2 separate regions of the Homo sapiens genome follow, and region 2 is linked to region 1. The links come from fine-mapping of genetic effects on plasma protein levels. A gene starts in region 1. The other region holds a variant in brackets. All regions are shown on one strand. Distances are between the middles of the regions. Region 1 holds the start of RETN (resistin). Region 2 overlaps STXBP2 (syntaxin binding protein 2).

The links. PIP is the chance, under the fine-mapping model, that this variant and not a neighbour inherited with it causes the effect. The UK Biobank Pharma Proteomics Project read protein levels with antibody pairs (Olink). The fine-mapping took linkage between variants from a reference panel, not from the people measured, so its PIPs are less certain.
Region 2: its variant is fine-mapped to the plasma level of the RETN protein (UK Biobank, PIP above 0.99).

What each region holds. Positions count from the first base shown.
Region 1 is chr19:7,660,765-7,675,032 of GRCh38, reverse strand. It overlaps RETN (resistin), which reads right to left and starts at 5,984. Exons shown (of 4, transcript NM_020415.4): 1 at 5,912-5,984; 2 at 5,589-5,716; 3 at 5,135-5,212; 4 at 4,578-4,814. The coding sequence starts at 5,706. The coding sequence ends at 4,684. It also overlaps the pseudogene RPS27AP19.
Region 2 is chr19:7,646,525-7,654,499 of GRCh38, reverse strand. It overlaps STXBP2 (syntaxin binding protein 2), which reads right to left. Exons shown (of 19, transcript NM_006949.4): 17 at 7,253-7,338; 18 at 6,989-7,146; 19 at 6,627-6,775. The coding sequence ends at 6,690. Among named protein-coding and RNA genes, the nearest start is that of STXBP2, 13 kb to the right of the region's middle. RefSeq lists an enhancer at 5,519-5,568. The variant C/T (reference allele first, on the strand shown) is at 4,375.

The DNA.
Region 1 (14,268 bases):
CAAAAATTAACTGGGCGTGGTGGCAGGCGCCTGTAATCTCAGCCACTCGGGAGGCTGAGACAGGAGAATCACTTGAACCCGGGAGGTGGAGGTTGCAGTGAGCCGAGATCGCGCCATTGCACTCCAGCCTGGGCAACAAGAGCAAAACTCCGTCAAAAAAAAAAAAAAAAAAAGAAAAAAGAAGAAAGAAGAAAGAAGGAAGGAAGGAAGAAGAAAAGAAGAAAAAACAAGTATAAGACTGTCTTATGTGCAGAAAGTGATGATGTTTTGGTTAAAAATATGTGGTTAAATTTCAGACAACTTGAATGTTGAGAAATGAGCGTCGAGATCTGGTGAGGATAAAGTTCTGTTTCCTAAAATATTGCCAAATCCTGTGTCTCCAAGAAAGATCAATTTGATAATGACTTCATGCCAGCTGCTCCATTTGGTCTTAGAAAGAAGTCAGTTACTGAGCTATAGGACCGCCTTCTAATGGAGCAGACGGACCAATTGGATGTGGGCTCTGCCTTGATGGACAGGCACAGGGGGTGGAGCCACAGCGTTGCACATTTCCCGGGCTTGGGTGGGGCTGAGACGCGGCTCCAGGCTCTGGACTTCCTTTGAGAAAAAGGTCACGCTAAACCAGAGGCCCACAAGCAATCATGTCATGTGGGAAACATCTGCAAAGCTGCCTGACCAGCACCCGTCCCTTTCATAGGGTAACATTCTCAATTTTCTTTTAAGAAAGAAAATGTGTGCTAGATCCAGCAAACCATAAGCTAGGGATTGGTTTACAGTGGACAAATGATCCAGACCCAGCCAACCAGAGTCTAAGATTGGGCAGAGAGGCGGGCATTTGAGCAAGATCCAGCCAATGAAACGCTGGTCTGGGATTTTTATTGGTTTAACCACGGGGGAAAAAGCATTCTCTTTTTTTTCCAGCCCTCACTAGGGCTGCCACAATGGGAGGATGTAATGGGAGCTGTGACAGGGAAGAATTTACTTGAGAGCAAAGGCAGTGCTGAGAAAATCAGACCCGAGAGGAAGTCTGGGTCCTGGAGACATCATTTGAGACCCTGGTTCCAAGCCATACCTGAACCTGTTGTTCTAACCCTGGGCTTGTCAGTTACACAAACAAGAAACTTCCTTTTAGTTTTGCCCAAGCTAGTTTGAAGTGGGGTCTGTTGTACTTGCAAGCAGAAGAATCTTGCCTTGGCTGGTCTCTGTGGCCCACGCCTGTAATCCCAGCACTTTGGAAGGCCGAGGCAGGTGAATCACTTAAGGTCAGGAATTTGAGACCAGCCTGGCCAAAATGGCGAAATCCCCGTGTCTACTAAAAATACAAAAATTAGCCAGGAGTGGTGGTGGGCGCCTGCAATCCCAACTACTCAGGAGGCTGAAGCAGGAGAATCACTTGAACCTGGAGGTGGAGGTTGCAGTGAGCTGAGATCGTGCCACTGCACTCCAGCCTGGACAACAGAGTGAGACTCCATCTCAAAAAGGAAGAAGAAGAAGGAGGAGGAGGAGAAGGATGAGGAGGAGGAAGGAGGGAGGGAGGAGGGAGGAGGGAGGAGGATATCTTGCCTACCACAGGGGATCTAGGCATTAGCTATTGAGGAAATTGAGGCTCTAATAGGGGGTTTGCCTGTCCACATCACCTGGGCAGATATGACCTCCAAGTCTGCACTCTGGGGCAGGAGAATGTCTATGTTGGAATTGAGGAACCTGAAGAGAGCCCTCTTAGGTTTCAGATACAGGACTATTGGATGGGGGTGGAGACAAATAGTTCTGGGGACAATGGAGCATCCCCGCCCCCAACACACACACACAGCAGTAAGGGGCAGGGACACACACAAGGCACTAGACTCACCCTCTCTGGCCCTGGCCATGCTTCTAACTCAGTGGTCCTGCCCTACCCCCATGACCACTGTGGAGTCAGGAGAGAGGGTCTGGGAAGGGAATCCCTGGGCTGGAGTCTGGGTGGGGTCCCTGGCACCAGAAGTGGTTGTAATCTCTGCTCATGGCCACCAGCATCAGACAGGGGGCTGGGACCATCACAGGGGGTGGGTGGCAGTGGGAGGAGAGTCCAAAACATCCTGCAAACCAGAACCTCACTCTATCATCTGTTGTCCAGGTGTGACATTTGAGTCTGGGATCCCTTTCAAGACTAGGTGCTAGGAATTCTGAAGTCTGTGGTGGGAAATCAGGGACTGGATGGCAAGACTCCTGGGTCAGGCTTCCTGTAGAACTGGACCCCGAATCACCTGAATTTGTGCCCCAGGGAGCTGAGGCGGGGGATGCTGAGGCTTTTGCCCACTAGAACAGGGGTCCCCAGCCACCGGGCATTGGGAACGGGGCCTCACAGCAGGAGGTGAGTGGTGGGCGAGCGAGAGAAGCTTCATCTGTATTTACAGCCACTCCCCATCATTCGCATTACCACCTGAGCTCCACCTCCTGTCAGACCAGCAGCAGCATTAGATTCTCATAGGAGCAAGAATCCCATCGTGAACTGCGCATTTGAGGGATGTAGCTTTCTCACTTCTTATAAGAATCAAATGCCTGGTAATCTGTCGCTGTCTCCCATCACCCTCAGCTGGGACCATCTAGTTGCAGGAACACAAGCTCAGGGCTCCCACCGATTCCACATTATGGTGAGTTGTAGAATTATTTTATTCTATATTACAATGTCATAATAATAAAAATAAAGTGAATAATAAATGTAATGCGCTTGAATCACCCAGAAACCATCCCCGCTCCCCCCCTACCCCATACACACACCAACTGTCTTCCATGAAAACAGTCTCTGGTGCCAAAAAGGTTGGGGATCGCTGCACTAGGGTATCAGATACTTATCCAGGTGCAGTGGGGACTAGAGTCAGAAATGCAAGAGTCTGCCTGGAGCATGTGTGTGTTTGTGTCCTGCATCATCTCTGCCCACCATAGTCAAATCTGCGATTCTCCGTGCATTGGCCGGGGGGGTGGTGCCTTTCTGTGTCCAAGAGTGTCTAGGGGCACATGGGTGTGTCTGTGGATGTGGTGTCTCCATGTGGCCGTGGTAGGTGGGTTGTGTACTCTGTGTGTGCACGTGGCTGTGTATAGCTGTGTGTGCATGTGCAGTATGTGCACGTCGGTGCTGTATCTAAGTGCACATGTGGCTACTGATCAACAGACATTTACTGAACGTCTACTGTGTTCCATGCTCTATTCTAAACCCTGGGGGCGCTGGGTGCAGTGGCTCATGCCTGTAATCCCAGCACTTTGGAAGGCCGAGGTGGGTGGATCACCTGAGGTCAGGAGTTTGAGACTAGCCTGGCCAACATGGTGAAACCCGCTCTCTACTAAAAATACAAATTAGCTGGGCATGGTGGTGGGCACCTGTAATCTCAGCTACTTGAGAGGCTAAGGCAGGAATATCACTTGAACCCAGGAGGCAGAGGTTGCAGTGAGCCGAGATTGTGCCACTGCACTCCAGCCTGGGCGCCAGAGTAAGACCTTGTCTCGAAAATAAAAATTAAAAAATAGGCCAGGCGCGGTGGCTCATGCATGTAATCCCAGCACTTTGGGAGGCTGAGGCGGGTGAATCGCTTGAGGCCAGGAGCTCAAGACCAACCTAGCCAACATGGTGAAACTCCTTCTCTACTAAAAATACAAAAATTAGCCAGGTATGGTGGCGAGCGCCTGTAGTCCCAGCTACGTGGGAGGCTGAGGCAGGAGAATCGCTTGAACCCAGGAGGCAGAGGTTGCGGTGAGCCGAGATTGCACCACTGCACTCCAGCCTGGGCAACAGAGCGAGACCCTGTCTCAAAAAAAAAAAAAGAAAGAAAGAAAGAAAAGAGAAGAGGGGAGAGGAGGGGAGGGGAGGGGAGGGGAGGGGAGGGGAGGGGAAGGGAAGGGAAGAAACGAAACCCTGGGGGGGATCTAGGAGCAGACAAGTCCCCTGCTCTGTGTTTTCATAATCTAGTATCCAGGAAGGGGTAAGCACCCTGCGTGTATCTGGTTGTAACTAACTACTCACAACTGCACTTGCCTGTGTGAAAACGTGAGCTTGTGATGATGCGTGACGTCAGGTAGGCGTCCCTGACTCTCCGTAACCCAACTTTGCCTGTGCCTTGGGGATTCCTCCTTGCAGGTAGGAAGTGAGGGGTACAGGTTCCAGCTCTGGGCTGAGACATGATTCAGGGTTCCACCCTGACCTGGGGCTCCTGGAGTCTTGGGGCCCTGGAGGGTCCCGTCCACTGCCCAGACTGACCCAGGTCCTCGATGAAGCCTCATTATGAGGACTGGGGGAAAAGGACCCAGCCACTTCCTGGGGAGGTCGGAGACCCCAGGGTGAGCGTCAAGGTAGCCTCAAAGATGAGACGTCACCTCTTGAAGGCAGCCATGAGCCTTGGGTGGGGACGTCACTAGAGGAAGTTCAGGCCCTATTTTCGGAGGAAGCAGTTGGAGACCCCATAGGAGGAAGGGCGATGGGGCAGTAGAAAGTCGCGGTGTCCCCGCCCCCTCCAGCAGCTACGCGCCCCACTCTCTTGGAGACGCTAGATCAGTCCCTCCGGGCCTACTAAAGAAACCACGCAGGGCTCAGATCCGCTCCATCATCATCATCATCATCATCATCATCATCTCCAGGTTTATTTCCAGCTCCCCCGCAACCCCTCCGGACCTGGAGCCGCCTCCGCCCGCGCTGTGCACGCGCTGCGCGCGACCTCAGGGCTGCACACGACAGCAGCGCGCTCCGGTCCAGTCCATGCCCGCGCACTGGCAGTGACATGTGGTCTCGGCGCGCACATCCCACGAGCCACAGGCGGAGCCACAAGTGCAGCCGGTGACGGCGAAGCCTGCAGCCCGGAACACAGGAGCGTGGACTCTGAGCTGGGAGGCTGAGGGTGGGAGCGGGAGGGGGGTGGGGAGCGCGGAGGGGGGTTGGGGGGGCGGGGGTGGGGACGGGGACGGCTGGAGGCTCCAACCACTGAATGGGCACTGGAGGCAGGGAGTGAGGGTGGACACCAGTGTCCAGATGGTGGGCGGAGAAGGCTGGGAGTCAGGACCAAGATCCTAGGGGAGTAGAGGCTGGACACGGGGAACGTGGCGGGGAGGGGGCATTCCCAGGGGACTTGGAACAGAAATGGGCGCCTGGACAACAGTCTCCTGCACTCACCTCGGGGGCAAGTAGCCAGGTCCCCCCTGGAGGTGACGCTCTGGCACTCCAGGCCAATGCTGCTTATTGCCCTAAATACTGGGGGGCAGGAGGAAAGGAGACAGGGGGAGCTGTGAGACCAAACGGTCCCTCCCCCATCCTCCCCTAGCCCTGTTGGTTTGGAGCTAGGTCCCTGTGGGCATAGGAGCTCACTGGCCTCCAGGACCCTGTCTTGAGTTGGGTGTTTTGGAGTAAGGGAAGGTTTGGAGTGAGAGCGGGGATTGGGTTTGGAGCCGTGGATAAGGTGGGGACAGTCGGAGGGGTTGGGAGTGGAGTTGGGGTTGAATTTATGATCTGGTTGGATTTGAGGATGAGATTTGGTGAGCGCTGGGGCTGGGTTGGAGTCAGGTCTGTGCCAGGGATCAGTGAGGTCTCTGAGACCCTTGGGGAGCTTGCCCAAGTGGGGGGTCCTCACTTAGGGAGCCGGCGACCTCCTGGATCCTCTCATTGATGGCTTCTTCCATGGAGCACAGGGTCTTGCTAGACACCAACAGCCCCAGGACAGGGAGGAGGAGGAGACAGAGAGCTTTCATCCTGCAGGCGCTGAAAGAGGGAACCAAGAGACCCACAGCTGGATCAGCCCTGCCCTGTGGGGAAGATCCGGCCCATGGAGGGAGTAGGATCTGCCCCTGGACCTGGACCCCTGTCCCCCCATGTGGGGGACAGGGATGGAGGCTCAGCCTTGACCCCAGCCTCCCCGCTGGTGCCATGGCAAGCGCAGGAGCAGCTGTCACTTACCCTCTCGGTGGGCTCAGCTAACCAAATCCGGCACACGAATTCCTGCACCGCAGCTCTTTCTTTGAGGCCTCTTGGGGTGGGGCTTCCTGGCTTGGCTAATAAGTCCCTGGGCCCCCAACCCTCCGGTCCCACATCCGGGGCCAAGAGGAAGCCCCTGAGCAGACAGTAAGGGCTGGAGGAGGAAGGGAGCCTTCCCACTTCCAACAGGGCCTCCGTCTTCATGTCCAGAGACTGGTCAGGAGGTGGTGCCCCAGGGATAATGCCAGGGGCTGTGGTCTGAGGAACAGGTAGACAAGCAGAGTTTTGCATGCAAGGGTGGCTGATGCAAACATGACAAAATTAATGCCTCTTGCTAGGCATGGTGCGGACAAGCACTTGTAGTCCCAGCTACTAAGGAGGCTGACGTGAGAGAATTGCTTGAGCCCGGGAGTTCGAAGCTACAGTGACTTATGATCACAGCACTGCACTCCAGTCTGGGCAACAGAGCAAGACCACTTCTCTAAAATAGTAATAATAATTATGTCTCTGGGTGAGAATGACATACCACATTCATACCCAAATGCCCATGAGCAATAGAACTGGTAAATAAAATCATGGTTTATGGCCGGTGGCTCACGCCTGTAATCCCAGCACTTTGGGAGGCCAAGGCGGGCGGATCACTTGAGGTCAGGAGCTTGAGACCAACCTGGCCAACATGATGAAACCCTGTCTCCATTAGACATACAAAAATTAACTGGGCGTGGTGGCGTGTGCCTGTAATCCCAGCTACTTGGGAGGCTGAGGTGGGAGAATCACTTGAACCCGGGATGTGGAGGTTGCAGTGCACTGAGATCGTGCCCCTGCACTCCATCCTGGATGACTAGCTTGGGCACCATAGCAAGACTCCATCTCAAAAAGAAGAAAGAAAAATCATGGTTTATTCCATCAATGGCATCACCTGCAACAGAAGTTGGAAAGCCATTGCTCATGGGCCAAGGTCCAGCTCATGTTTCTTCTTGGACCACCCATGAGCTTGGAATGGTTATTACATTTTTATTTGTTCTTTGTTTCCAGTACAACGGGCCTTTTTGTGGTAAAATACATATAACATACAACTTACCATTATAACTTACTTTTTTCTTTTTTGAGACGGAATCTTGCTCTGTCGCCCAGGCTGGAGTGCAGTGGCGCGATCTCGGCTCACTACAAGCTCCGCCTCCTGGGTTCACGCCATTCTCCTGCTTCAGCCTCCCAAGTAGCTGGGACTACAGGCGCCTGCCACCACGCCCAGCTAATTTTTTGTATTTTTTTTTTTTTAGTAGAGATGGAGTTTCACCGTGTTAGCCAGGATGGTCTCGATCCCCTGACCTTGTGATCTGCCCGCCTTGGCCTCCCAAAGTGCTGGGATTACAGGCGTGAACCACCGTGCCCGGCCTTTTTTTTTTTTTTTTTGAGACGGGGTCTTGCTATGTTGCCCAAGCTAGTGTCAGACTCCTGGCTTCAAGTAATCCTCCCACCTTGGACTCCCCAGTAGCTGAAGCTACAGGTATGCACCATCTTGTTCCATTTTAACCATTGCTTTTGTTTGTTTCTTTGTTTCAGAGTCTCACTCAGTTGCTCAGGCTGGAGTACAGTGGCTCAATCTTGGCTCACTGCAACCTCCACCTCCTGGGTTCAAGCAATTCTCCTGCCTCAGCCTCCCGAGTAGCTGGGATTACAGGCGTGCACCACCATGCCCGGCTAATTTTTTGTATTTTTAGTAGAGATGGGGTTTCACCATGTTGGCCAGGCTGGTCTCAAATTCCTGACCTCAAGTGATCCACCCGCCTCAGCCTCCCAAAGTGCCGGGATTACAGGTGTGAGCCACCATGCCCAGCCTATTTTAACCATTTTTCAGAGCACAATTCTGTGGCAATAAGCACATTCATGTTGTTATGTAGCCACCACTGCCGTCCATCTCCAGAACTTTCTCCTCTTTCCAAACTGAAACTCTGTCCCCATGAAACACTCACTCCCTATCCCTCTCCCCAGCCCCTGGCACCCTCCATCTTGCTTTCTGCCTCTATGGATCTGATGACTCTAGGGACCTCCTAGGAGTGGAATCACACAGTGTTTGTCCTTTTGTATCTGCTTATTTCACTGAGCATAATATCCCCAAGGTTCATCCCTGCTGTAGCCTGAGTCAGAACTGTTTTCCTTTCCATGGCTGTATCACATTCCCTTGTGTGGATGAACCACGTTGTGTTTATTCCTTCATCCATCGATGGACACTTGGGTTGCTTCCAGCTTTTGTTTTGTTTTTTTGTTTGTTTGTTTGTTTTTGTTAGTTCACGTCTTTTGTGGGTTTTCTTTCTTTTTTGAGATGGAGTCTCACTCTGTTGCCCTGGCTGGAGTGCAGTGGCACGATCTCGGCTCACTGCAAGCTCCGCCTCCCGGGTTCACTCCATTCTCCTGCCTCAGCCTCCCGAGTAGCTGGGACTATAGGCGCCCGCCACCATGCCCAGCTAATTTTTTTGTATTTTTAGTAGAGACGGGGTTTCACCATGTTAGCCAGGATGGTCTCGATCTCCTGACCTTGTGATCCGCCCGTCTCGGCCTCCCAAAGTGCTGGGATTACAGGTGTAAGCCACTGCGCCTGGCCGTCTTTTGTTAATTCATACAGTTATTTGTCTTCTGGTTTGTTGAAGCAGTAAGTCAGACAACATTTGCCACAATAATGTCTGTCAAAGTGGCTTGCCATAAACACTGCAGCACCACATTCATCAGAAGGGCAACCTCGACGAAGGTGACTAATTTTGCCATTCTCATCCACCTTATAATATTTCAGGACAGCCAGCTTCACCTTCTTTCTCTTGTGCTTATTCGTCTTGCAGGTAAGACTTCTTCTTCTGGCCGGGCTCAGTGGCTCAGGCCTGTAATCCCAGCACTTTGGGAGGCCGAGGCAGGTGGATCACGAGGTCAGGAGTTCAAGACCAGCCTGGCCAACATGGTGAAATCCTGTCTCTACTAAAAATACAAAAATTAGCTGGGCGTGGTGGCACGTGCCTGTAATCCCAGCTACTCGGGAGGCTGAGGCAGGAGAATTGCTTGAACTGGGACCCGGGAGGCAGAGGTTGCAGTGAGCCGAGATTGCACCACTGCACTCCAGCCTGAGCTACAGAGCGAGACTCCATCTCAAAAAAAATAAAAAAAAGACTTCTTCCTTTCCTTAGCACCACCACGAATTCTCAATACAAGATGAAGAGGAGACTCCTTTTGAATGTTGTAGTCAGACAGAGTACGCCCATCTTCCAGTGCTTGTCTTTGCTGATCAGGAGGAATTCTTTCTTTACCCTGGATCTTGGCCTTTACATTTTCTACCATATCTGAGGGTTCAGCCTCGAGGGTGGTGGTCTTCCCTGTAAGGGTTTTCAGGAAAATCTACATTTTGGTGGCGGCTCCACCACAGATGGCGGATCTAAAAGGTTTTTGTTTTTTGTTTTTTTGAGACAGAGTTTCGCTCTTGTCACCCAGGCTGGAGTGCAAGTGGCACGATCTTGGCTCACTGCAACCTCTGACTCCTGGGTTTAAGTGATTATCCTGCCTCGGCCTCCGAGTAGCCAGGATTACAGGCATGTGCCACCACCACACCTGGCTAATTTTTTTTTCTTTTGTATTTTTAGTAGAGATGGGGTTTTGCCATGTTGGCCAGGCTGGTCTCAAACTCCTGATCTGGAGTGATCCGCCTGCCTCGGCCTCCCAAAGTCCTGGGATTACAGGTGTGAGCCACTGTGCCTGGCCTGCTTCTGCCTTTTGGCTATTGTGAATAATGCTGCTCTGAACATAGATGTGCAAATATCTGTTTGCAGCTCCTGCTTTCAATTCTTCTGGGCGTATGTCCAGGAGTAGTGCTGCCTGATCATATGGTAATTCTATGTTTAACTTTTTGAGGCACTGCCAATTTTCACATTTTTAAACCATAGGGAAAAAAAAGTTGTTTTTTTTTTAAAAAAGACACAGTCTGGCTCTGTTTTCCACGCTGGAGTGCAATGGTGCAATCATAGCTCACTGCAGCCTCAAACTCCTGGGCTCAAGCAATCCCCCCCTCATCAGCCTCTTGAGTAGGTGGGACTACGGCATGTGTCACCACACCTAACTAATTTTTTTAATTTTTTTGTAGAGGTGGGGTCTCACTCTATTGCCCAGGCTGGTCTCAAACTCCTGGCCTCAAAAGATCCTGCCACCTTAGCTTCCCAAAGCACTGAGATTACAGGCATGAGCCACTGTGCCTAGCCAAAAAATATTTGTAATGTTTAGTGAAAATAGAAATCATATAAAATTCAAATTCATATAATTTTCATAAAAAGTCCATAAAGAAAATTTTCTTAAAACATTGTCAGCTGGGTGCGGTGGCTCATGCCTGTAATCACAGCACTTTGGGAGGCTAAGGCGGGTGGATCACCTGAGGTCAGGAGTTCAAGACCAGCCTGGCCAATGTGGTGAAACCCCATCACTACTTACAATACAAAATTAGCCGGGTGTGGTGGCACGCGACTGTAATCCCAGCTACTTGAGAGGCCGAGGCAGGAGAATTGCTTGAACCCGGGAGGTGGAGGTTGCAGTGAGTCAAGATGGTGCCCTTGCACTCCAGCCTGGGCAACAAGAGCGAAACTCTGTCTCAAAAAAAAAAAAAATTGCCAAGCTCAGTGGCAGGCACCTGTCATCCTAGCTACTTGAGAGACCAAAGCAGGAGGATTGTTTGAGCCCAGGAGTTTGAGGGCAGCCTGAGCAACATAGTGAGATCCTGTCCCTACAAACACACACACACAGTTTGCTACCCCCTTTTTTTTGAGAGGGAGACTCGCTCTTGTCACCCAGGCTGGAGTGCAGTGGCACGACCTTGGCTCACCGCAACCTCTGCCTCCCGGGTTAAAGCGATTCTCCTGCCTCAGCCTCCCGAGTAGCTGGGATTATAGGCAGGTGCGCCACCATGTCCGGCTAATTTTTGTATTTTTAGTAGAGATGGGATTTCGCCATGTTAGCCAGGCTGGCTTCGATCTCCTGATCTCAAGTGATCCGCCCGCCTTGGCCTCCCAGAGTGCTGAGACTATAGGCATGAGCCACTGCACCTGGCCCCATTTTTTAATATATCATCAGTGACTGCTATCACATGTCCATGGCAGAGCTCAGCAGCTGTAGAGTGGTTGGACAGTAGGGCCCCCAAAGCTGAGAATGTTTACTATCTGACTCGTTACAGAAAACATTTTTTTGTACCCCTGGTATGTGGTGATGAGTGAGAATGAGACAACTGTCCATGGATTACAGCTACACCCAACCATGTGGCTGATTCTCACGAACATATGTTAGCATAGAAGCCAGACCCCAAAAAGAACATACCATACAAATCCATTTATTAAAAAAAAAGGGGGCCGGGCGCGGTGGCTCCTGCCTGTAATCCCAGCACTTTGGGAGGCCAAGGCAGGCGGATCACAAGGTCAGGAGATCAAGACCATCCTGGCTAACACGGTGAAACCCCATCTCTACTAAAAATCCAAAAAAATTAGCCGGGCGTGGTGGCAGGCACCTGCAGTCCCAGCTCCTCGGGAGGCTGAGGCAGGAGAACGGTGTGAACCCGGGAGGCGGAGCTTGCAGTGAGCCGAGATGGCGCCACTGCACTCCAGCCTGGGCGACAGAGCAAGACTCCGTCTCAAAAAAAAAAAAAAATACCTAAAAATACAAAAATTAGCCAGGTGTAGCGGCAGGTGCCTGTAATCCCAGCTACTCGGGATGCTGAGGGAGGAGAATCGCTTGAACCAAGAGGTGGAGGTTGCAGTGAGCTGAAATCATGCTACTGCACTCCAGCCTGGGCAACAGAGAGAGACTCCGTCTCACAATAATGATAATAATAATAAATGAAATACAAACAAAACTAATTTATGCTGTCGGAAATGACGATGGAAGAGTCCTGGGGAATCAGAGATAGTGGTGATAAAAGCATACCAGGAAGGCCCCTAGTGAGGGGGGAATTTTGTAAAAGTTTTCAGCTGTAACTCTCATTTGCACAATTTTCTCTATGTATTTATATTTCAATCAACATGATGCATGTGTATTAAAGCCCTGTGTAAATGCAACGGTGCACACAGGTTCAAAGCGCAGGCAATATTTATTGAGCAACTATTATGTTCCATATGCTGTGTTAAACACCATGCATACACTAAGAAGCAGAGGGATGCTGCCCTTGCCCGGGACGAGTTGGCCCTTGTCAGTCAGGGAAAGGCAGACACCAACAGAACAGCAATAAAAAGGCCGGGCAATGGGCCAGGCGCGGTGGCTCATGCTTGTAATCCCAGCCTTTTGGGAGGCCGAGGCGGGTGGATCACCTGAGGTCGGGAGTTCGAGACCAGCGTGACCAACATGGAGAAACCCCTTTTCTACTAAAAACACAAAATTAGCCAGGCGTGGTGGCACACCAGGTGGGTAGCTGTAATCCTAGTTACTCGGGAGGCTGAGGCAGGAGAATTGCTTGAACCCGGGAGGCGGAGGTTGTGGTGAGCCAAGGTTGTGCCATTGCTTTCCAGCCTGGGCAACAAAAAGCAAAACTCCATCTCAAAAAAAAAAAAAAAAGTCCGGGCGCCATGGCTCACACCTGTAATCCCAGTGCTTTAGGAGACCGAGGTGGGTGGATCACTTGAGCCCAGGAGTTCAAGACCAGCCTGGCCAACACAGTGAGACCCTCCCTCTGTACAAAACGTAAGAAAACATTAGGCAGGGATGGTGGTGGCTTCCTGTAGTCCCAGCTACTCAGGAGGCTGAGACAGAAGTACCGCTTGAGTCCAGGAGTTGGAGACTGCAGTGAGCTATGATCGCACCACTGCACTCCAGCCTGGACAACAGAGCAAGACCCCATCTCTAAAAAAAAGAAAACAAAAAAACAACAACAAAAAACACCAATAGAATGCTCAATCAGCCATCAGCCTCAAGGACCCTTCCATCTCCCAAGGAGAGGAACCCTTTTCCGTGAGAACCTCTGACCTAAAAATCAACCCCACATGGGGGAATCCAGAAAGTATTTTGGGGGGAGGAAAAGATGTTTGAAGGGAGGGTGGAGGATGCAGAAGGGTTAACCAGGAGAGGCAGTTAGGGAGGGCCTTCTGGGTGGAGGGAGAGGACTGCATGTTCCAAGGACCTGAGGCAGAATGGAGTGTGTGTATTTAGAGGAACTGAAAGCAAATTTGTGGGACAGGGGATCTAGAGGGGAAAAGTGAATTCCACAGGCTCCCTGTCTCTTCTGGTCCTAGCAGGAACTTTCAAGTCCGTTTTTGTCCAGATATTTCCCCATGCTCAAGTCCCAGCTCATCCTGCCTCCTTGAAGACATGACTTCTGTCTCTTCTTGAGCTACTCTTTGACACACCCTGGACAAAGGGTAGCTTGAAAAGAGACAGAAACCATGTTATTGCCAGGTGCAGTGGCTCACGCCTGTCATCCTTGTGCTTTGGGAGGCTGAGGCAGGAGGATCGCTTGAGGCCAGGAGCTTGAGACCAGCCTGGACAACATAACAAGACCCCATCTCTACAAAGATAAAAGGGAAAAAGCCGGGCGCAGTGGTTCACGCCTGTAATCCCAGCACTTTGGGAGGCCAAGGTGGGCAGATCACCTGAGGTCAGGAGTTCGAGACCAGCCTGGCCAACATGGCGAAACCCCGTCTCTACTAAAAATACAAAAATTAGATGGGCGTGGTGGCGGGCACCTGTAATCCCAGCTACTCGGGAGGCTGAGGCAGGAAAATCACTTGAACCCAGGAGGTGGAGGTTGCAGTGAGCTGAGATTGCACCACTGCACTCCAGCCTGGGCGACAGAGTGAGCCTTGGTCTCAATCAATCAATCAATCAATCAATGGAAAAAAATTAGCTGGGTGTGGTGGTCCATGCTGGTAGTCCCAGCTACTGAGGAGGCTGGGGTGTGAGGATCACTTGAGCCCAGGAAGGCTGAGACTGCAATGAGCTATGATGGCATCACTGCACTCCAGCCTGGACAACAAAGCAAGATCCCGTCTCAAAAAAAAAGAAGAAAAAGAAAAATCATTTTTTGAGAGCTCTGATTTTCAAACCCTTTGTTCTCAGAACTCTTCGGGTAAAACCTTTTGAACGACACAAAAGGAGTGGGCAGCTGTGATGACAGATTGAGGAGAAAGCAGGGTAGGCATGGAACCTCTAGGGTTCCCTAGGGACCCAGTTTGAAAACTCTTGGTTCAGTAGCAGGAAAAGGCAATATGCCCCTTAATTCTCTTCTAAAACATAAAATCCTTTAACTTCCTCTGATTTCTACCAGTAAAACTGAGCTCTACTGACCTCAATTTTGTACCAAATGCTATCTAATAAAATCCCAGAAACAGTGATTT
Region 2 (7,975 bases), 17 kb after region 1:
CAGCTAATTCCAGTAGCAGGAATGATAAAGTTGGACATAATCCTCAAGAGAGTAATGAATCAAAAATGGATGGCGGGCCAGGCACGGTGGCTGATGCCTGTAATCCCAGCACTTTAGGAGGATGAGGCAGGTGAATCATTTGAGGTCAGGAGTTCAAGACCAGCTTGGCCACCATGGTGAGACCCCGTCTCTACTAAAAATACAAAAATTAGCCTGGCATGGTGGCTCATGCTTGTAGTCCCAGCTTCTTGGGAGGCTGAGGCAGGAGAATTGATTGAACCCTGGAGGTGGAGATTGCAGTGAGCCAAGATTGCATCACTGCACTCCAGCCTGGGCAACAAGAGCGAAACTCTATCTCAAAAACAAACAAACAAACAATAACAACAACAAAATTGATGGCTGCTAATGACTTTTTTTCTTTTCTTTCCTTTTTTATTTTTATTTTTTATGAGACAGGGTCTCACTCTATCGCCCAAACTGGAGTGCAGTGCCGAGATCATAACTCAGTGCAGCCTCAACCTCTTGGACTCAAGTGATCTTCCCACCTCAGCCTCCCATGTAGCTGGGACTACAAGCAATTGCTGCCACATCTGGCTAATTATTTTATTTTGTTGTATTTTATTTATTTATTTTTTGAGACAGAGTCTTACTCTGTCACCCAGGCTGGAGTGCAATGGCATGATCTCAGCTCACTGCAACCTCCGCCTCCTGGATTCAAGTTATTCTCCTACCTCAGCTTCCTGAGTAGCTGGGATAACAGGTGTGCACCACCACGCCTGGTTAATTTTTGGTTTTTTGGTAGAGACGGGGTTTCATCATGTTGGCCAGGCTGGTCTTGAACTCCTGACCTCAAGTGATCCGCCCATCTCAGCCTCCCAAAGTGCTGGGATTACAGGTATGAGCCACCGTGCCCGGTCTTTATTTTATTTTTAGTAGAGACAGGGTTTTGCTATGTTGCCCAGGCTGGTCTCAAACTCCTGGGCCTAAGTGATCCTCCTGCCTTGGCCTCCCAAAGTGCTGGGAACTACAGGCGTGAGCCACTGGGCCCAGCTCCTGTTAACATCTTTATGTGGAGAGTTACTGGGGACCAGGGACATTCCCCAAACCCACCCATCAATCGTAGTGACATGACGTTATGGACCCCCTGATGTGATGTACCAGGAAGTACCCGGCCCTACCAGCATGATATTATTCTGGCTGCAACTGACCCTTATTCCAATAGAGCATGTGGTTCTAAGCCATTTATAGGGTAAACATTGGGGCAGGGATGGGGAGAGAGGAAGCAACCTGCCAAATCCAGAATGAGGATCATTCCTCGGTACCAGAAGAGAACCAGAAAGAAAGCACCCTAAGTGGGGATACCACAAGGAAGTAAAGCAGGGGCCTCTCCCAGCTGGGGAAGGGAAGGAGGAAGGAGTACAATAGCTTGCAAGGCACAGCATTGCGGATGATGGGAATAGCAGGTGCAAAGGTTCTGGGGCAGGGACAGTGTGGTGTGTTTGAAGAACAGCAGCCAGGTTCACCATGAGATGGGAAATGGACTTGGGGGAAGGGATCTCAAAGGATAATTTTTTTTTTTTTTTTGAGACAGGGTTTCGCTCTTGTTGCCCAGGCTGGAGTGCAGTGGCATGATGGCTCACTGCAACCTCTGCCTTCCGGTTTCAAGCGATTCTCCTGCCTCAGCCTCCCGAGTAGCTGGGATTACAGGCGCCCACCACCACGCCCGGCTAATTTTTGTATTTTTAGTAGAGACAGGGTTTCACCATGTTGGCTAGACTGGTCTTGAACTCCTGACCTCGTGATCCGCCCGCCTCGGCCTCCCAAAGTGCTGGGATTACAGACGTGAGCCACCGCGCCCGGCCCCCCAACTTTTTTTTTGTTTTTAACACAACTTCTCGCTTTCTCACCCAGGCTGGAGGGCAGAGGCACAATCATAGCTCACTGCAGCCTCGAACTCCTAGGCTCCAGCGATCCTCACAGGAGGGTTTTGAGGATCTGCATAAAGCGTGCAGAGGGAGCTTGACTTCGTGCTCGTTAGGACCCGATATTGTCAGCTGCCGCCGCCCACAGGGACACATAAATATTTGTAGACTCAATATTTGCCTTTAGTGTGAAGACATTGCATCACCTGGGTATAAGTAAGGAGCAGAGGCAGAGGCGGTTTAAGCAACAGACTTTTGTCTCCGCTGAGAACCACGGAATAACCCCTGACCTACTTCCCCGTCGTGTCTAATTCGGGTCACCTCATCTCCAGTTACAGACGCGGAAGATCAAAGAAACCGGGAAATTGCGCCGCAGCGCCCCCTGGCGTTCGCAGCGCGTGCCTACACAAGCCACTCCCGGCGCAAAACTGCGGCTTCCCAGGAAATTGAGTTTAAATGTTTTTTTTTCTTTTTTCTTAATCTAGAAAAGATCATTTATTGTATCAAGTAACTACCCAGTTAGGCGTGAATACATTTTAAAATTTTTATTAAAACGAGTATTGGCCGGGCGCGGTGGCTCACTCCTGTAATCCCAGCACTTTGGGAGGCCAAGGCAGGTGGATCACGGCGTCAGGAGTTCGAGACCATCCCGGCCAACATGGTGAAACCCCGTCTCTACTAAAAATACAAAAATTAGCTGGGCGTGGTGGCACGCACCTGTAGTCCCAGCTACTCGGGAGGCTGAGACAGAAGAATCGGTTGAACCGGGGAGGCGGAGGTTGCAGTGAGCTGAGATCATGCCACTGCACTCCAGCCTGGGCGACGGAGCGAGACTCCATCTCCAAAAAATAAATAAATAAATAAATATAATATAATATAAAATAAAATAAAAAGAGTATTGTAGAGATTGGCTGGGCACAGTGGCTCACACCTCTAATTCCTGCATTTTGGGAGGCTGAGGTGGGAGGTCTTCAGCCCAGGAGTTAGAGACCAGCCTGGCCAACATGGCAAAACCCCATCTCTACTAAAAGTACAAAAATTCGCTGGGCATGGTGTCGCACGTCTGTGATCCCAGCTTTTTGGGAGGCTGAGGCAGGAGAATCGCTTGAACCCAGGAGGCAGAGGTTACAGTGAATCGAGATCGCACCACTGCACTCCAGCCTGGGCAACAGAGTGAGACCTTGTCTCAAAAATACATATATTTAGGAATTTGCTATGTTGCCCAGGCTGGCCTCAAACTCCTGGCCTCAAGCAATCCTCCCACCTCGCCCTCCCAAAGTGCTGGGATTGCAGGCGTGAGCCACTGTGCCCGACCTTGAGCTTAAGTTTTAAACATTAAAACCACCTCCCTCCCACTCCCTGCACCTCCCGTAAGTTAAAACGCGTCCCTGCTGAGGCCCTGCAAAGGCATATCCAGGGCAGGCGGACCCCAGGGGTCCACAGCCGACCCACTTTCTTCCCCACACCTCATCCCCTTCACAACTCTCCTCATCCATCTCCCTGCCCTGGTGGGAGATTCCGATAAATCCTAATTGTGGAACTGCTGAATCAGAGGGGGCTGCATTTTCCTTAGCCCCCACCTGCAAATTGTGTGTGCAGTTTTTCTGGGATGAGTGTCCTTAGATTTCCCTGAATTCTCAAAAGGATCTGTGACCTCAAAATCAGGAGAGAGGCCGGGCACGGTGGCTCACGCCTGTCATCCCAGTACTTTGGGAGGCCGAGGTGGGCAGATCGCTTGAGCCCAGGAGACCAGCCTGGGCAACATAGCCAGACCCAGTCTCTACAAAAAATTAAAAGATTAACTGGGCTTGGTGATGTGCACTCATGGTCCCAGCTACTCAGGAGGCTGAGGTGGGAGGATCGCTTGAGCACAGGCGGTAAGAGAGGCTCTACCTCTGAAGAGGATGCTTCCCCACCCTCTGCCCCCTCCCCAGGCACCCACTCCAGCAGTGAGAATTTCACTGCCAACATGAGACATGGGTCCCTACCTGTCCCAACTCAGACCCTGTCTATGATGTCCTATGGCCTCAGCAGGGACCAAAACCCTCACCATGGCCTCACCAGAACCTCCACGTGGTTCTCAGATTGGGTTGCAGGTCAGTACCCTCCCCTCCAGCTCCTCAGGGGCCTCCTGCATTCTCTGGCCTTGGCTTCTGCTCTGCCCTCCCCTCCCTTCCCTTCGCCCCCTTCATTTTCATTCTCTATGCAAATGCTGCCTCCTCTAGGAAGCCTTCCCTGATTGCCCCCAGTCTGGGTGGATTAGATGTGATATGGGCTCCCACAGCCCCTTTTGCCTCAGATTACTCATGTGGCTGGCTGTATATCTGTGCCCCAGAGAGGTTTCTTTTCCTTTTTCTTTTTTTTTTTTTTTTTTGAGATAGGGTGTCACCTTGCCACCCAGGCTGGAGTGCAGTGGCATGATCATAGCTCATTGCAGTCTCAACCTCCCGGG[C/T]TCAAGCAATCCTTCCACCTGAAAGTCCTGAGCAGCTGGGACTACAGGCGTGTGCCATCACGTGCCTGACTAATTTTTCTTATTTTTTGTAGAGATGGGGTCTTGCTATGTTGCCCAGGCTGGTCTTAAACTCCTAGCCTCAAGCGATCTCCCACCTCAGTCTCCTGAGTAAACTGGACCCCAGGTGCAAGACACCATGCCCATAAAAAAATTTTAAAAAAATTTAATTTTAAAATTTTTTTGTAGAGATAGGATCGTGTTATGCCGCCCAGGCTGGTCTCAAACTCCTGGGCCCAAGCGATCCTCCCACCTAGGCCTCCCAAAGCACTGGGATTACAGGTGTAAGCTACCTCGCCCGGCCTCTCCTGTTCTATTGGTGCTGTGAGATTCACACCTCACTTGAGTGCTATGGGCTGAACTGTGTCCTCTCCACAAATGTCTATGCTGAAGTCCTGCCCCGCAACTGCCTCAGAAAGTGACTATACTTGGAGATAGAATCTTTAAAGAAATAATTAAGTAAAAATGAGGTCATATGCGTGGGCCCTAATCCAACATGACCAGTTTCCTTGTAAGAAGAGCAGATTAGGACACAGACATGCACTGGGGCGGGGGGAGGAGACTGTGTGAACACACAGGGAAAACACAGCTGTCTACAAGGAAAGGAGAGAAGCTTCAGAAGGAGTCACACCTGTGGACATCTTCATCTTGGACTTCCAGTCTCTAGAAACAGAAGACTATAAATGTGTTTGCTTTGAGACAGAGTCTTGCTCTGTTGCCCAGGCTGGAGTGCAACGGTGCGATCTCAGCTCACTACAACCTCCGCCTCCCGAAGGAGGCGTAGTGTAATTCTCCTGCCTCAGCCTCCCAAGTAGCTGGTACCACAGGTGTCCACCACCACACCTGGCTAATTTTTGTATTTTTAGTAGAGACAAGGTTTCACCATGTTGGCCAGGCTTGTCTTGAACTCCTGACCTCAGGTGATCCACCTGCCTCAGCCTCTCAAAGTGCTGGGATTATAGTTTTGTTTTTGAGATGGAGGTCTCGCTTTTGTCACCCAAGGCTGGAGTGCACTGGCACGGTCTTGGCTCACTGCAACCTCTGCCTCCCAGGCTCAAATGATCCTCCCACCTCAGCCTCCTGAGTAGCTGGGACCACGGTGCACACCACTACATTCAGCTAATTCTATTTTTTTGTAGACACAGGATCTCACTATGTTGCCCAGGCTAGTCTTGAACTCCTGGCCTCAAGTGATCAACCTGCCTTGGCCTCCCAATGTGCGACTACAGGCATGAGCCACGGTGCCTGGCAATTTCTGTTAAGTCACCTAGTCTGTGGTACTTTGTTATGACAGCCCTAGCAAACAGATACACCCACCGAAGGCCCTGATAAGTCCTGCAGTCAGGAGTCTCTGTGAACCCCGTGGGGCTGGGAGGAGAAAGCAGGGAGCGTTTGCTGTGTGCCTCACATGAATACAGCAGAAGCTGAACACAACTCCTGGCATCGTATGCCTACAGGTCCCCTTGGAACAGTTCTAGGGGGGTTGGAGTTCCAGGGTCCATTCTGCTTAATAACAATATTAACGGAGCAGCCAAAATGGTTCCAGTGAAAATGGGGTAGCAGCAGCTGTCATGCTTGCACGCCACCAGCCTTCCTGCGCTATCTCTGTTCTCTCCTCTGCAAAGCAGCTGCTATTTTGGGCTCCCTGTTTTTAGATTGGGAACCCCGGAAGTTGGTCAGGGCCTCACCGCTAGAATATCTTAGAGCTGATATTCAAATGAGAGTCCAATTTTTTTTTTTTTGAGACGGAGTCTCGCTTTGTTGCCCAGGTTGGAGTGCAAAGGGGCAATCTCGGCTCACTGCAGCCTCCACATCCTGGGTTCAAGTGATTCTCCTGCCTCAGCCTCCCAAGTAGCTGGGACTACAGGTGCACACCACCACACCCAGCTAGTTGTTTTGTATTTCTAGTAGAGATGGGTTTTCACCATGTTGGCCAGGCTGGTCTTGAAGTCCTGACCTCAAGTGATCCTCCCGCCTTGGCCTCCCAAAGTGCTGGGATTACAGGCGTGAGCCACCGTGCCCTGCCAAAAGTCCAAGTTCTTAACCTCCATGAGGGCTTGAGATGCCCTCAGGGGCAGGGAGAGGCTAATTCTCCTTCTGAGAGGATAATAGGGGTTGGTGGGGCCTGGGGCACAGGCCTGGCTCAGCACAACTCCCAGGGACTCCCTTGATAAGAAGGTGAGGTAGGCACTGGCTGGCAGAGCGACGGGAAGAGTTTATTTCTCTGGAAAGGGAGGGGTAGGGGGCGGGGCCAGGGGTCAGGGCAGGGCAATGTCCTCCAGCTTCTTGTCCAGTGCCTTCAGGTCATCCAGGAAGCGGGTCGGGGTGAGGATGTGTGAGGAGCCTGTGCAGGGGCAGAGGTTTGGGGAAGATGTTGGGGGGCGCTGCCTTCGTCTTTGACAGGCTCCCGGTCCCGGCTGGTGTGGGGCTGTCCCTGTCCCTCAGCAAACCAGGTCCCTGACTCCAAGGACTCTGGAGTCCAGACACCTAGAAGGTACAAGCCCAGGCCCCGGGAACCCAAGCCCCAGACCCCAGGGTCCCAGTCCTGGTGACTTACCAATGAGCACCTCCCACTTGCCCTCGGTGGCCCTGGTCACCTCGTAGGCGGCCCTCATCTCTGACATGGCCACACCGCCCATGACATACACGATGAGCCGGGGGCCCGCCCGGGCTTCTATGCCAGCCTTGTTCTTGTGCCAGTGACCGAAGCGGGCACTGTGCAGGGCAGGGGCAGAAAGTCCAGGCAGGAGGCCCTCACCGCCGCCAGGCCGCCCACCTAACACAGACCCAGGCGTGGGCGGGGGCGGCCCCGGGGCCTCACCTGACAGCGGCCTGGGAGCTGGCCGTGGGGGCGGGGTCGGATACGAAGGGCCACAGGTTCCTGTCCAGCCGGTCCTCCACGGCGTCCTGGCGGCCGAGAGGCAGGTTAGGGGAGGAACCCCAGGCATGGGGTCCGGGGTCAGGAGTGCCCCCCACGGGGTATTCAGGGGCCAAGATCCTGGCAGACAGGAACCAGCATCTCCACCTCCTGCCTCTGGGGGACCCAGGAGTCTAGGCCTCTAGTCCATTGGGGACCTAGAAATCTAGATCCATAACTCACTGGGGACCCACGAATCTAATTCCATAACTCCTTGGGTACCCAGAAGTCTAAACCCACAGTTCCTCGGCAACCCAGTAGTCTGGGCCTCCAGGCCCTTGGGGACCATCAGTCAATACCCCCAGCCCTTTGGGGAACCCAGTGTCTGGGCTCTCAGCCCCTCAGAGCCCCAGAAGTCCAGGTATTCAAGGTCCATGGGGATGAGGAGGCCCAGGTCTCTGGCCCCCACGCAGAAAGAGGGGCCGGGGCTCTTAGAGGGACAAGGAGGAAGCCAGGAAGCCGCCCCAGGCCCATTGCCATTGGATGGTGCTGCCCTGGGATCCTGGGAAGGCCAGGGCTGGGGCTCAGGGGCACTCCTGCGGGACAGGGGAACAGACTAGAGAGATATAGCGGAGGCAGCCGGCAGGTGGGGAGGAAGTGAGGCTCCCCAGCACAGGCCCCGCTGTC